Regions from separate parts of the Homo sapiens genome. Here region 2 is linked to region 1. Evidence: fine-mapped expression QTL. Tissue or cell type: whole blood. Region 1 holds a variant in brackets; the other region holds the start of a gene. All regions are shown on one strand. Distances are from middle to middle.

Evidence for each region. PIP is the estimated chance that this variant, and not a neighbour inherited with it, causes the effect.
Region 2: TMEM131 starts here. The variant in region 1 is fine-mapped to the expression of TMEM131 in whole blood (TOPMed, PIP above 0.99).

What each region holds. Positions count from the first base shown.
Region 1 is chr2:97,752,815-97,760,917 of GRCh38, reverse strand. It overlaps TMEM131 (transmembrane protein 131), which reads left to right. Exons shown (of 41, transcript NM_015348.2): 37 at 4-125; 38 at 229-325; 39 at 1,169-1,266; 40 at 1,865-2,025; 41 at 3,535-4,582. The coding sequence ends at 3,819. It also overlaps a transcript of ZAP70 not described here. Among named protein-coding and RNA genes, the nearest start is that of ZAP70, 43 kb to the right of the region's middle. The variant G/A (reference allele first, on the strand shown) is at 4,375.
Region 2 is chr2:97,991,083-97,999,185 of GRCh38, reverse strand. It overlaps TMEM131 (transmembrane protein 131), which reads left to right and starts at 3,238. Exons shown (of 41, transcript NM_015348.2): 1 at 3,238-3,710. The coding sequence starts at 3,524. LOC124905591 (a long non-coding RNA gene) reads right to left here and starts at 1,543. Exons shown (of 2, transcript XR_007087148.1): 1 at 292-1,543. RefSeq lists enhancers at 2,529-2,808, 2,979-3,492, 5,125-5,204 and silencers at 3,029-3,278, 3,389-3,948.

The DNA.
Region 1 (8,103 bases):
AAGTGACCCTAAAATAAAACAGCCAAATGGAAGCAAACACAAGTTGACAAAGGCAGCCTCGCTCCCGGGCAAGAACGGCAACCCCACTTTTGCTGCAGTCACGGCTGGCTACGACAAGAGCCCAGGTCAGTGCCTTTGCTTCAGAGACCTGCCACGCCAGGCGCCAGGCCTGGTGGAATGACCTCTGTCCTAATGTGCCTTCCATTGATTGAACGTCCATTGTTACAGGTGGGAATGGCTTTGCTAAAGTTTCTTCAAACAAAACAGGTTTCTCCAGCAGCCTTGGCATTTCACACGCTCCTGTTGACAGCGATGGCTCAGACAGGTACGGTAGACCACCACTAACCGCTAGAAAGACGGAAGGCTTCTCAAGTCGGGTTAGCACCTTTTTATCCATAAATGGGTTTCAGGGCATTTTTCCCCTAATTTACAAGGAGGCATTTGTCAGAAGTGGTCAAGTGCCTCTAAGAAATCATGTCTGCTGGGTGGAAGCAGAAAGCCGGCTGCGGTGCCTTCCCCAGGGGGTCCAGATAGAGAAAGGGGGCACCCATGCCTGTCTCAGCCAGGCAGACACACGTTACACCTGTTCTCACTCTCCTCCATCTCCTGGTCTGTGGTAAGATGTGATCTGATCATTAAAAATAGAAGAGCGAAAGTGACTTGGGAGGGGGGAAATCTGGAGCAAATACTAGCCAATTTATAGTAAATCACTGGCCACGCCTCTTTCTTGAGCAGGCTTGTTTATCATGCAGGGGGTGTGGTGGCCTGCAGCAGTCACCTTGGTTGACTTTTCCAGATAAGCAACAATAGAGCCCCAATTTACCTACTTTGCACTAATAGGAAATGAGTTCTAGATTTGAAATAGTTTTTAAATAAATCTTCCAGTACCAAAAAGCAAACAGAAGGAAAAAATGTCTGTTTCTCTGCAAAACACTTGCTTTGAACCTGGCTGTGAGCTAGTGATAGGGCATCCGGAGCTCTGGGGCTCCCTCCGACTCAACCCTTGTGGTAAGCAGCCATTGTTCAGCTCTTCCTTTTGTCTGTTTTTAATATTTGAGTACCCCCAGTTGAAGCAGTGTCTCCTGTTTGTGAAGCTGTGCACTATGGATCCGTTTGCACTAACCACCATACATTTTTGTGTGTTGCGTTTTCCTCTTGTAACATTTAGCTCGGGTTTGTGGAGTCCCGTCAGCAACCCAAGCAGCCCTGACTTCACTCCCCTCAATTCGTTCTCCGCCTTTGGAAACTCTTTTAATCTAACTGGTGGTGAGTGTTTAACACTAGATGTGTAACTAATAAGCCTGTGGACAGAGGAAGGGAGAGGAGGTGTGGTTTTGTGTGCTGGAGAACACAGCACAGCAGCACTGTGGAAGAGGCCCCGCAGGAAGCTCCCTGGGAAGGGTCCCCTCCCCTCTTCCTCCCTCATCCACACCAGCAGCCCAGAGGGGCAGTGGACCAGGCTCGACACGGTGTGCGCACACCAGTTGGTGTGAGTTCCATGGCGGGTATTGAAGGGCTTCACAGAAGGGTTCTGGTCTGAAATGGGACCCCTGAGTGTGCCAGGGGTCCTCTTCTTGCTGTCCAGAACTAGAGGTCACCATGGAAGCTTCCCATTAGCTATCATGTGAGAGTGGGGAAAGTTTGCATTTGGATGTCATTGGTGGCATATCAGCTCGTGCACTATGCGTTTGAGTTCTGGAGGACACTCCTGCCCCTACTTCCTCTGGGCTGTGGTGGGCTGGTGAAGTGGGTGTGGTGGCTCCAGGAGCAGTGGTTGGAGGTATGCCATTGAGTGAAGCCCCATATGCTATAGTGATCATGGCAAAACCAAATATGGACTTGATGACTGTTGCTTTATTTCCAGAAGTTTTCAGCAAACTCGGATTATCTCGATCGTGCAATCAGGCCTCACAGAGGAGCTGGAACGAGTTTAATAGTGGCCCTTCATACCTTTGGGAGTCGCCAGCGACAGATCCCAGTCCTTCCTGGCCAGCCAGTTCCGGCTCCCCGACCCACACAGCCACAGTGAGTACTTGGGGCTGGGGCTGGGGCCTGGACCTGGCCCACCCACTCGCCATCTGCCATTGCTGTGACATGGATGGCACTGACATAGTTATAAACAACAAACAGCAGCATCAGAGGGGTGGGTTAGTACTTTTATTGTCTCCATTGCTTTGTCTTCATATTCTGTCAAAATGACTGATCGATGTTCTTCAGAGCCATTACAATCAGGAAGTTTTAGGAAGAACAACTGAACAGCTATGGGGTTGGTCTCTGGAGTCCCTCCTAATAGCTCAAGGGCATTTTCTGCCTCTTCCCAACCTGTAAATGGACCACAAGGGTGACCATAGGCCTATGGCAGGTTCAGATGGTTGAGGGAAGCCTTCGGCATCTGTGCAATGCAGCCACTGGCCACCCAGGAGCAAGCTAGATACTGCATTTACTTTGTTGCTGAGAAGCACCTGTCTCTTAGGTTAGATTTTCAAGAGTGCATTTGTTTGCTTCTTGGCTAAAGTCTTCTGCAAAGACCATGCTGAAAAGAGTATTCTTGCCAAGGAAAATAATTAGTGGTTTTGGCTTCCACAAAATTATGACAGAAAAATATGACCCCACTGTGTTTGCCTCTTTGTTCTCAGAGAAACTAAACATGCAAGGTTTTATAACAGATATTTCAACTTTACAGATTCCAAAGGTTGTCTTCATGTGTAATTATTCAGCCTTATGTTTTAAAACCACCTTAACCATTCTTTAAAAGAGAAGTCAGCAAACTTTTTTTTTTTTTTTTTGAGACAGAGTCTTGCTCTGTAGCCCAGGCTGGAGTGCAGTGGCACAATCTCGGCTCACTGCAAGCTCCGCCTCCTGGGTTCATGCCATTCTCCTGCCTCAGCCTCCTGAGTAGCTGGGACTAGAGGCGCCCACCACCACACCCGGCTAATTTTTTGTATTTTTAGTAGAGACGGGGTTTCACCATGTTAGCCAGGATGATCTCGATCTCCTGACCTCGTGATCCGCCCACGTCGGCCTCCCAAAGTGGGAGTCAGCAAACTTTCTATAAAGAGTCAGATAGTAACTATTTGAGGCTCTGAAGGCCATGCTTCACCACTGCCATTGCAGTGCACAGGCCGATGGGCGCAGCTGTGTTCCAATACAACTCTCTTTACAAAAGTAGGCAGAGCTGGATTTGGTCCACAAGCTGTCTTTTTTAAAATATCACAACTAGCCGGCATGATGGCTAGTGCCTGTAATCCCAGCACTTTGGGAGGCTGAGGTGGGAAGATCACTTGAGCCCAGGAGTTTGAGGCTGCAGTGAGGCATGATCACACCACTGCACTCCAGCCTGAGTGATGGAGCAAGACCCTGTCTCAAAAAAATCAGAAACATCTGCTCAAATACATATATATAACATTTGTTCTAAAGTAAACAAAGTAAGAGGAATGCGTGCCCCAGCCTCATCTTTTCTGTAGCCTTACCCCCTTACCCACTTGACCCTCTGCCTGCCGGGCTCAGTGCTGGACGCTTTCTGTTTTGTCGCAGTCGGTCCTCGGTAACACCAGCGGCCTGTGGTCCACCACTCCATTCAGCAGCTCCATTTGGTCCAGCAACCTTAGCAGCGCCCTTCCCTTCACCACTCCAGCAAACACGCTGGCAAGCATCGGCCTCATGGGCACAGAAAACTCCCCTGCTCCTCACGCTCCCTCCACCTCCAGTCCAGCTGACGACTTGGGACAGACCTACAACCCGTGGCGGATATGGAGCCCCACGATTGGAAGAAGAAGCTCGGACCCTTGGTCTAATTCGCACTTTCCTCACGAGAATTAAATTAAGCAAAAAACAAACAAACATAGTGGGCCCTCGTCTAGATCATGATGTGCCAGTTTCTGAGACATCTTTTTAAGGCTCTTACTGCAGCTCCCCTCCCCACCCTCCTCTTCTTTGCAAAACAGACCCAAGCAGGGCAGGCTCAGACCACTCGCTTCTTTCAGATCTTTCTTGCAATTATGATAACATGAGATTTGCTGTTGTGCTTTTAGAGAAAAGTCTGGACTCAGCCACAAACTCTAATAAGACCTGTACATCTGAGAACCTTTCCCGTTACTGCGTTTTCACCACCTGTCTTCCCCATGCTTTATTTATCTGTATGAACACAGATTTGACATTACAGCTAAGGAAATAATTTGAGTTGATTCAGAAATCCTGGCATGTGACAATTTTGTTAAATTACCAAGTTTGGTTTTTAATAATTTCTCAATATTATGCGCCAAGATCTAATTTTAAAACTGTATGAGGACTTTGTGCTGAAAATAGAGTATTTTTTTAAAGTAAGGCTGTCTTGGTTTAAAAGCAGATTACAGAAATGTAAGTCAACTTAAGAAC[G/A]GTGAATGAATGTAAAAACATTCAGTTGAGACCATATGCATTTTCTGTGCTGTTTGTACTTGAGGTATGTAACATTTGTATACCTGAACTTATTTTAAAGATGAACTGAAATGCACATAGCCAAGTCTTGAGATACAAGATTGAATGTGTATTTCTTAAAAATACAACTTTGTGTTGTACTTTGAAATAAATGATGCTTTTTTCAAAAGCCTTGTTTTGTGGTTTTTTTTACACACAAGGTGTATTTATTAGGATTTTCTCACACCAAAGTAAACCACCTTATCCTTGCCTTACTCTGTGGAGCTGACAGGTTAAGACGGGGTTTGCCTTCTCATTGCTGGAACTTCCTGCAGTCTAATGGAGTTCTGTGTGTTCCCATGGCAATCATGGAGGGTCCTTGATCGAAAACAACTTGAAAGCCTGTTTGGATTCATCCAGTAAGCGTTTTCCCTCTGCCACTATCCTAAAAGGCCTCATAAAAAGCAGTAATTGCTACCATTTATTGAATACTGACTCTGTCAGGTACCTGGCTAACACTTTGGGATATGTTGGGTTACTCCATTATACTTGAGGAACCTGGCTGGGCAGTGCTGGCTCAGAGGCCCCAGGTCAGGCTGACCGCAGATTCACATGGCACCCACTGTGCTGCCTTCCTTCTGGTCACAGTCACCATTCTCAGGAACAGTCTGTGTCCAACTCACCACTGCATGTTCTAACACTGGCCAACCTTTACCAGCCTTCAGTCTGAGGAAGTTGTATGGTGAGAGGAAGACAGAAAAGGAGAGAAGCGGGGCACAGAGGGAAGACAGCAGGGGCACAGAGGGAAGACAGCAGGGACTCGGGCAGCCTGGGGGAGGGCTCTGGGGGCCACCTGTGGGAGCTTACCAGCAGCAACACAGCATGCAGTGCCCCTTTGGCCCTTTCATTTCTAAATGATGGCTTGGAGACAAGGGGGGATGCCTTGGGCTATGGCACAGGGGCTGGGGGTACTAGAAACAGCTATTTACCCACTGGTATTAAAATGCTTTAGCAGTTTACCTGCTAATACAGCTATACCCCAAAGCCAGGCTGGATGGAAAGCAACCTGTGTGCTACTGAGGAATGGAGCCACAGGTGGCAGTCACACAGGGTGCCATGTAGAAATACCAGCTGGGGCTGCTGGAAACGGAGCCTTGGTGCAGACTGGAAATGACTTAGCCAAGCCTGTAAGGTGCAGTAGTAAAGACTACACATCTAAATTTTATTTTTTTTCTTTTAACTAGAAGTGTGTTGACCCTTTTCCAATTTTAAGACTTTCAGCTCCTCCATGGTCCCTGTTGAGTTCACACAGACACGAGGCGAGTCTCGGTACGCCACAACGCATCGGTTGGTTTAATCTTGCCTGTTCCAACTTGCTTTTCTCATTGTCTTGTTTCCAGTCTGTGTTAAAGCCAGGCTTTGCTAGGTAACATAAATGTTCTGTTGGAGGCTAGTTACATCATGAAATCAAAACTATCCCCATGAAGGTGGGAGTGATTTAGTCAAAATGTTATTTGGCGTGATTGTGAACCTGACCTTTTCTCTGCTTTATACCAAAGCTCACAGAACAAGTCTCATTGTTTTGACAACTTGTGATTTGTCCCTCGGGGACACCAGATTTCCTGTGCAACCAGAGCTATGGTGTGTAGGCTGACATCAGGCCTTGTACAATGTTAGCAGCAGGGTTTCCTACGTGCACTTGCACGATCAGGACAAATTCAAGTCTTGGGATTCTCTTTCTACACCAAAGCAGATAATGACGTGTAAAGCTCTACATACAGGTGAGCTTCATATAAACCCTCACTTAAACCAAAGAAAAACTGGGCCAGGCGCTGGGGCTCACACCTGTAGTCCCAGCACCTTGGGAGGCCGAGGTGGGCGGATCAACTGAGGTCAGGTGTTCTAGACTACCCTGGCCAACATGGTGAAATCCCGTCTCTACTAAAAATACAAAAATTAGCTGGGGGTGGTGCTGTGCATCTGTAATCCCAGCTACTCAGGAGGCTGAGGCAGGAGAATTACTTGAACCTGGGAGGTGGAGGTTGCAGTGAGCCAAGATCATACCACTGCACTCCAGCCTGGAGACAGACAGAGCAAGACTCCATCTCAAAAAAAAAGATAAGAAAAAAACTGTATTGGCAGACTTTTCCTCAGAAAGAGTATCTCAGGAATTGATTCTAAACTTGCTTCATCAGAACAATCGCCTGAGACCCCCCCCGACCAAACTCCTTTTTTAAGTTCTAATTTCACCCCATGAGCCTCGCCAGCAGGCTTGAGAGAAACACTGTGTACTTGGGAGAAGATACAAACAAGGGTCTCTTCTGTTACTTGTGCTTTCCAAATAATTACTCTAAGGGTAGGTATTTGAGTGGCAACATACCCACCAAATCTGAAGATCTGACACAACTCAGTCTGTTTACAGTGAACACTTGTTGGCATGATAGTCGCTTTGTACTAGGCCAAGGTTGAATTTAAAATTACAGGTTGTATATAATTATATTTACATGAAATGATAGTGGATGTCTTTATTTATTTTGAGACTGGGTCTTGCTCTGTCGCCCAGGCTGAAGTGCAGTGGCACAATCATAGGCTCACTGCAGCCCTGAACTTCCAGGCCCAAGCAGCTCTCCCACCTCAGTCTCCCAGGTAGCTGGGACAAAAGACACGGACCACCACATCTGGCTAATTTTTTTTTATTTTTTTATTTTTTGTTTTTTATAGGGATGAGGTCTTGCTTCGTTGCCCCCTCTGGTCTCAAACTCCTGAGCGCAAGCGATCCTCCTGCGTCAGCCTCCCAAAGTGCTGGGATTACAAACATGAGCTGCTATGCCCAGGTATCTTATATGTTTATATAAATACGTATAAACAAAGGTATAATCTTTTTTAAATGTTTTTTTACCTAAACTGTGTATCAAAGGAGTGAAATTAGAATTTGGATTTTTCATGACAACCTGAAATAATGTAAAGGATCAGAATCTCATTTAAAAGACTGTTTTAGCCATCCGGGAAACACAGACTCCAAAGGAAAGGGGTCAGTGTTCCGGAGCTAAAAGGTTAAGGTCTCTTTTATACAGGCAGAAAACACATTTAGTGGAATCACGGCATTTTCCATATGAGTCTGGCTTATGAGCTACAGCAATTTGATTAGTTACAGCTTGATGTTTTTTCTTTCCAATTGAAAAGACTATATTTAACATTGTGATTTAGAGAGTATAGTAGTTGTGAGGTCCTTGTGTAAGAGAAGAAAGAGGGAAATTATAATGACGATCAACAGTTAGGAGGAAAGGGGTCTTCCCTGCTGCCCATGAGTTTTTTATAACATTTTACAAAACAGTGTAGGTAAAGAAAAAGGATAGTCTATGATCAGAGAAACAGGTTATAGGTGCCTGTTGCATGACTCAGGCCTCATCATCACATTCCTTTAAGGCTCTAAATAAAATTTCAACAGCTTTGATTTTGAATTATTTTCACACAAGTAAAGTGATTTAGTTATGCTAAATTTGAAGAAAGATTCCTTTTTGTCACCAAATTATTAACTCTCAATGTAAAAAATACGCTTTAGTAATTTTGTTAGAGATGCCTTTGAGTAGCCTTGTCCTAATTTTACTTGTTCCTATTTCAAAATGCTACCACAGAGTTAAATTCACCCTTAAAATATAGACCAATCCCAGAAATTAGGTCATCACAGATGACTAAAACATTTGCTCCCAC
Region 2 (8,103 bases), 240 kb before region 1:
CAATGGATCAAGGATCTTCGTGCCTAATGTGGTGTTTTGAAAAGAGTGAGTGCTCACTAATAGCTACTTTTGACAGTCTCCTATGTCCCAGACACTAGTCTATATGCTTCACAAACCTATATGCTTAATCTCCCCAAATTTATATCATAATCCCCATTTTTACAGATTAGGAATCTGAGGCCAGAAAAGTCATTTGCTCAGCATCATATAGCTAGTAAAGGCAGGGATGGGATTTAAGTTCAAATTTGTCTGAGTCTCTTATAATTCTGCCTTGAATGGTAAATTACTAACCTGCATAGAGAGCAAAATGAACAGAAAGTGAGGAGTCCCAACAGCTTGTAGCTCCTGGCATATATCACTGTGCAACAGTCTTCAATCTTGAGCCTGTATCAGAATCACTTGGATGCCTTGTTTAAACAGATTGTTGGACCTCAACCCAGAATTCCTGATTCCACAGGTCTGGGATTTGGCCTGCTAATTTGCACTTCTAACAGGTTCCCAGGTGTTGCTGCTACAGCTGGTCTGGGGATGACACCTTGAGAACCACTGGTTTAGCGAGTTTTCCCTGACTCTGCCAGCTAATACCTCCACCTGCCAAATGGCCAGGTCTCTCCAATTTCCAAAAGGGAAAAAGAGAAAAGTTCACAACTAATCAGAACTATTTGAGAGTCCTTAGTGTGATGGTTCCTTCAATTTTAACTCCTGGTTCTCTCCTGAGACACATGAGGGTTGGGGAGTGGGGGTAGAGGATCATAGGGTGATGGTGGCTCCACGCCAGGTTCTCTCTAACACACAGTTTACCATGCTGTCTAGCAAAACGTCTTTCACTGTTAGACTCTCAGTGGCCTCATTGTCCTTTCCTGGGAGGAAAGTTCCATCATCACCCCTCCTGCTCCTAGTGTCCCTCAGGCACAGGGGAGGGTTCAGGTATGGTGGGCCTTAAAAGCCTACCCAACTATTGGGAGGGCTCCTTTAAGAACAAGAATACAGGCTTATAAATACACAATTAGGTTCAGGGACTTGGAAGGAACTTGTGCAAGAGAGGGGGCCCTGCGGCTTAAGCTTCATTAGCTGCATGGGAAATCGAACTCTGATCAAACATGTCTGTATACGTCTAAAGATCCAATTACAGACAGGTGCAAGTTATTTCCCATGGAGCTGCTGAGCCTCAGGCTAACCAGGGGATGTGGCTGATTGCTGTGTAAGAGAACCTCAGCACTTCATGGTTGGAAAGGCTTGTTTGTCCTGAATCTGGCCATGGGGGAAGGGCTGCTGACTTGCAGAGCTAGCACGTTGGAGGCTAAGCAAAAGCGCTCAGTTACATATCCTTGGGTTTGATCTCTTCCGTGAGTCAAAAGCCTTCCAGAAATCTCTTGCCTCAGACATTTTAAACGCCAACTTAAGAGATAATTATTCCTATTTCATTACATCAAAATAAAATTTGACTACTCAATTTTAAGGCTAATATTCAAAAAAGTAAAATTGCTTATGATTAATTTTTTGAGACGGAGTTTTGCTCTTGTCGAGGGTATAGTGCAGTGGCGCTATCTTGGCTCACTGCAACCTCCACCTGCCGGGTTCAAGCGTTTTTCCTGCCTCCGGAGTAGCTGGGATTACAGGCATGCACTACCACGCCCGGCTAATTTTTATATTTTTTAGTAGAGACGGGTTTTCACCATGTTGGCCAGGCTGGTCTCGAACTCCTGACCTCAGGTGATCCGCCCACCTTGGCCTACCAAAGTGCTGGGATTACAGGCGTGAGCCACTGCGCCCTGCCCTAAAATTGCTTTTTAAAATCATTAGGCTAAGGTCATATTTAAATATATATTAATTTATGAATAAATTTAAGTGCTTGCTTGACACAGGGGACTACTTCATAGAGTAGATTCTGGAGTTCCTTTTGTCTTTCTGAAACCTTATTTTCCTATCTAGCTTGTTCTGAGACGTACTGTGGGCAGACTTGGCCTTACACATATATCGACTCACTCAACAAATACAGCTAAGGAAAGTAAAATGTCTCTGGGCTACAAGCTGGGAGGAAGTTACTAAGATGAGTAAAGAAGGACCCCCTCCAAGAGCTTAAATTAAGTCTTGGAGACAACAGCCATGCGCACCAAGAAGCTCAACCTAAGATGAAAAGGGCATCTAAGAGGCGCGAGATGGCTCGTGAAGGTAACAGACGTCTTAAGAATTTTTCCGGGCCCAGCACAGTGGCTCACGCCTGTGATCCCAGCACTCTGGAAGGCCGAGGAAGGCGGACTGCTTGAGCCCAGGAGTTCGAGACCTGCTCGGCCAACATAGTGAGACAGCGTTTCTTAAAAGAAAAAGAAAAATTGGCGTGGCGTGGTGGCGGGTGCCTGTAGTCCCAGACCGCACCACTGCACTCCAGCCTGGGCGGCAGAACCAGACCCTGTCTCAAAAATAAATAAATAATTAAAAAATAAAGAAAAGAAAAAAAAGAATTCTTCCTCGAGAGAGGAAGCCGGCTACTGGATATTCTAAAGAGCAGTCTGTTTGCCCCTGCCTTCTCCATCCAGAGTCACCGACGCTTTCTGCACACGAGGTGTTCCGCGCCAATGTGGGCACAAGCCAAGGCAAGAGGACTCCATCAAGCTCCTCCTGGGTACCATGATTTGGAAGACCCAAGGATGAGTTCAGCGGGCCACCATCCTCAAGGAAGCACCATCAAGAACTGAGTCAGGCCCGGGGTATTCTCGACGTCAAAGCGGTCGAGAGGTGGGGGTGCCACCAGGAAGAGTCACTGGAACGGACCTTCCGCGCTCGTCTCGCGGTCTGTATGCGCACTCACACCCCTGGAAGGCTCTACCACTGTAGGACAGAGCACGGAGGATTGCCCAGGCGCCGGAGAAGAGGTTAGCGCCCCGCAACTCCGCCCCTGCCCCGCCCACGCAACGCGGCGGCTGCGCGGCGAGGCCGCCCCGTCTCCACGTGATTGCCGACACCGCCTCCGCGAAGCAGAAGCCGCCATCATAAGTCCTGGCAGCTGGACCTGGGCCTGCCTCCCTCCTTCTCCTGCGCCAGGTAGCGGTAACGGGCTGGGGTTGTTCTGTCCTGGTTCTGTCTGGCCGTGAAGCCGCAGGCCTCCGAGAGCGGGACGAGGAGGTGGGGCCCAGGGGGCTCCGGGGCGGACAGACTGACCGCCGGACAGCCCAGGTGTCGGCACAGCGTGGGCGGTGCCCAGAGCCGCGCCCCGCCCCTCGCAGGCCAGCGCTCAGGGCTCGCGGGCCGTGCCCGTTTCCAGTATGGCCGCCCGCCGCGCCTGACCCGCGGCCTCTCCGCTCCGACTGCTTGTAGGCGATGCCCAGGCAAAGACCGTGACTGACACTCTCGCTCACACGCACGCACGGACCCAGGCCCACGCTCGGAGATCGAGCCCCGGGCTCGCAACCGTTGTCGCTCCCGGCGCCGCGGCCAGAGCCCGGACCACGGCTTCCGCGCCGCCGCCGCCTCGCCGAGAAGGGCCGCGCCGGACCTCGAGCGCGGCGGCCCCCGGCCGGCAGGGATGGGGAAGCGGGCGGGAGGAGGAGCAACCGGAGCCACCACCGCCGCCGTCTCCACGTCCGCCGGGGCCGGGCTGGAACCTGCGGCCGCCCGTAGCGGGGGCCCGCGGAGCGCGGCCGCCGGCCTCCTAGGCGCGCTGCACCTGGTGATGACCCTCGTAGTGGCTGCGGCGCGGGCCGAGAAGGAAGGTGGGTGTCCCCCGGCGGCGTCCCTGCGGCGGGGCTGTCACCCCGCTCTCGCGGAGGCCGGGAGGGCTGGGCCGGGAGGAAGGGCCGCGGCCGGGGCTCCGGCGCAAAGTTGGGCGGTCGGGTACCGTCCCGAGCCGGGACCTCGCGGCGCCCGCCGCACGGAGTGGCCTTCGCTCTCCGTGATTCCTTCCCGTGCCTTCCCCCGTCTCCTGTCACTGCCATTTCAAAACTTCCTGACTTCTCGTACGTTCTTGCCACTTGGCCCGCTAGGTAGGAGGGGCATATTTTTTGGCTTTATTGCGGCGAATAGGTACATTTTAGGACACTTCTGTTTTCTTGGTTGCGGTTGGTTGCATGCAGACAGAGCTTACTTTAAAATGTGGTAAAAATAGCGAGACACAGCTTAAAAAATTTCACTTTGAATTTGTTCAGACATTTCTTCGAGGGGAAATCTTGGTCCTGTAGCTTCCTCCTTTAGTGTCTCTGCGTTATTGATAACTTTATTATTAGACCTAAATACAATTCCATTTAACTCTTTAGTAAGCTGTTGAAAGCCTGTTTACATTTCTTATTTTAAAATACGTGATTCGGTGCCTTTATCTTTGATGTGAAAGCCTTTAAAAATAAACGTGAAGTTGCCAGCTTGCAAGCATTTATCTATAATTTACAGTTAAGGGCTGGCCCCTATTTTAAAAATCTCATTAGTATTGTACTGCTGCAAAACGGGTACTTGGACAGGGTCAAAAATTATTTTGTAATCTTGAAGACCAAATCAGTGTAATTTCATCTACACTACCTCTTTTTGAGCCAAGGGACATGTGAATGGTCACAGAGCCTTCATGAAGAATTGACTAAGTGAATAGTTTAAAAAAAAAACAAACCACGCAAAACTTGTTAGTTTAGCATTGCACATGAAACTGCCTGTACAAGAAAACAATTTCTTGCCACGGTAATTTTAGAGTTAACATTCTACTTTATGACTAAAGTCACTTGCTTTTTATTGTTGCTGAAGGTGAAAGCAAATACAAACCAAATTAGTATTAAAGTGCAAATGTGCTTCAGTATACTGTTTCTTTTATTTTTGTCCACATTACATTCCCTTATCTAACTCTCTAAGCAACCTTAGTCTGAGTTAACATTGGTGGAAATTATTCAAAGAATTGTCGTCTATAGAAAGGATTAATTGATGGAAGCAAAATTATTTCCAGAATAAAATATTGCCGCTTTAGGACTAGTCGGTCCTGGGGTTGTCATAATACATCATTGGCCACAGATCTGCAGTTAGTTGAGTGTTCTTTCTTATGTGTGATCGTGGCACCTAGCATTTTGGCCTGTAGTGGGTGTTCAGTGAACCCAAAATAGTGCAGTAATTTAATGGACATTTTTTGGGTGGGACTTCAAGTAGACCTTGGTGGGTATTGTGTCCTTGTTTTTCTGTTCCTTTGCTTACCTTGCACAGTGCCAGACACACTGGCGCTTAGCCTTTGAGTGAATGACTGTCTTCATGCGCCCTTAGCACAGGGAATTGAAATAATGGTTGAATCTAGTAAAGCATTAAGTTTGTATTTTCCTTCTACTGCTGCTGATTTTTCCAACAGCCATTTTATATGCTAATAAAAACTTTACTCTGGGTAAAGTTAAGTAAACAAACCTTTTGTTTGAGAACTGTCAGCCTAAAATATATTTGCTAATTTCTCATTTGCATAGTTTATACATGTTAGTGCACCTCTCTAATACCCATAAATGTGTGTAAGGATTGGATGAGGAGAATACTTGCCAGGGTGTTAAGTATGTATTAAAGGGGTGGTTGAATCAGCCAGTGGCCTGGGTGAATCAGATATCCTTTGTGGCCCATGCTTTTCTGTATGAACAATTTGTGTGTGCGGTTATCCAAGATATTAATGGAGATGATGCTGATATAGAACATAGGCCTCTACCCATCATAAACAGATCTGGTTCTAATCAAATATTCTGTGAAGGTATCTCCAGAAATGGCTTCTCCTTTAAAACTGATCATATTCCAGTATTGTTTCTGAGTAAGTAGGGGAAAAGCAATTTATTTTCTTACGTGATTGTGACACTGTGAGTCTGGCATCTGATGAGGCACAAATACAGTATTTGTCCTAAAAGGTACTGTTGAGTTTTTCAGCAAGTTTGGGCAGATTTCTGAAGATGGCTGAGTTCAGTTTGATCATTCACACCCGGAGGAATTTTGTGTCTATTGAAGTAGCATAAACTAGTTTAAAATTTCAAAGTTAAGATTTACCTGCAGTTTTAATGATGATTCTGCAGGTATTTTGTATGTTTGTATTTCTTTTCCTTCATTACTGTATAATTTCACTGCAAAATCTTTAAAAGACAATAAAACTCATTGTCTCCTGAAGAAAAGCTGCAGAAATAAATTACCTAATGTAGTTTTTCATGTTTGGACTTGATGTTGATTTTCTTGAGTCAGAAGCATGGACCATTCCTTGTCTTAACATCCTATATGACTTAACTGAGCTATGGGAGTGTGCTATCACTAGTCCAGAGGAAAGGTACCTTTGAGATGGTTTTGGCTGTGATGTAAAGTTTGTAAGGACTTTGAAAGAGTTTCCAGAGATAGAAGTTGTTATAATCACTACAAATAACTAGTTCTAGATTGGTGGCAAGATTTTGTCTTGAGGCTAACATCTAGATACTGAGAATAGCAAAAATGTGTGTGAGTTGTGAAAATATATTTTTAAAATATATAGTGAAAATACATGTGTATGTGTATATATTAAATGTATACTTTTAGTAGTCTTTTGAATTATAAAGCAGCCCATTATGACTGGCAAATAAGACCTTTTTTAAAAAAGCATTATATATCATGTAATATAATTTCATTGTGAAGTGGGTTTTTGGAAGGCATTTATTATAAATGAGAAGCTATAGTTTATGTATCTAGTAAATATAAATTCGAATAAGTTTTCAAGAATGTTTCAATTTATGACAATTTAAATTTCATTGTCACATGTTTTATTAATTGGCAATTAAATGGCAGGGTAACGTTTGACAGCCTTTATTAGGACTTTAAAAATTTTTTGCCAGTGTACTATAGTTTCATGCACAAATTTTTGTTTTAAGCTGTATTTGTGACATAGGTGCAAAACACAGTACAAAAGTATTTACAAAGCATATGAGAAAAGTGCATAGGACTAAAGACCACAAGAAAACAGATAAGAATCTAATAGTTTTCTAAGGGTAGCCAAATTGACTAGGAGTGTTATTTACTTTTTCTTAACCAAACTATTTTTAACCTACTTATTACTCGATAATGTTAAAATGTTTTTGAAAGTGATTTTCTTAAGAGTGAGATGTGTTAACCCTTTGTATGGGGTAGAGTGGGTACCTTTTAATTTAGGGCCTTGTAAATAGAATGTTATTTAATAAGTGCTTCACTAATGAACGTTTGTAGCCTGCTTTTACTAAAGGCTGTTGCCTGATGGAGCATTGGAGTTTTGTAGTTGGAAAAAGTGTGTCCTTTTTTCCTCTTGCTAATGACCATTTTCCTCCTCCTTCTAATTCTTACAGTGGACCCTCATAGACATCTGCCAACAAGATTGCTTTGGGAGTAGATGTAAACTCATCTAATTGTTACTATCCAGAGTAGCAATAAGCCAAATTACTCTTGGAGGAAAATAAAATCTTTGCTAGGTGCTTGATATTTTAGGTGTTCTCTCTCTTGCCTATATGTGACTCAAGCGCTCTGATTGGCCTTGCCAGACCAAGAGGCCCTTTTCCTACAGCTGAATTTTCCCCTACGGTCTCTTGTAAGCAGCATCTGGCATTGTTTCGGTGACTCTGTACTTCTCGGTTCTGGTTGTGCCCTAGCTGACAGTTGCTGCTCTCCAATTGCCTGTTGGTTGTCTTCCTCCCTGTGTGTGTCTAGCTGCTGGTGCACACTGCATGTGTCCAGGGCAGAATTATCTTGCGCCACCTCCAGTTTTCAGTTTTTTATTAATGCTATGATTATTCTGCCTGCCCCACTGGATTCAGTTTTGACCCTTCACCAAGTGGCATCAGTGCCTGTTACATCCTCTTTTGATCACTCTCCCACTGCCTTCACCATGGGGCACTGCAGCAGCCTCTCTCCTACCGCCTTTCGCCATTTCTGTTCAGTCCTGCATGCTCCCTCTGAATTTGTGGTCTTTGTTAATCATTCATCATTCATTTTGACACCTAATTGTGTACTGCCTTGTTAGCTACTTAAATGATTTCAGGGGTGTCATTCTTCACCTAGGCTGGAATTTCTGTAGGGCAGAACCTTTGTCAACATCTGTAGTACATAAATAGCAGGCATTCAGTTTTGATTGAAAGTTTGCCTAAACTTTCATTGTAATATAATTTCATTGTGAAGTGGGTTTTTGGA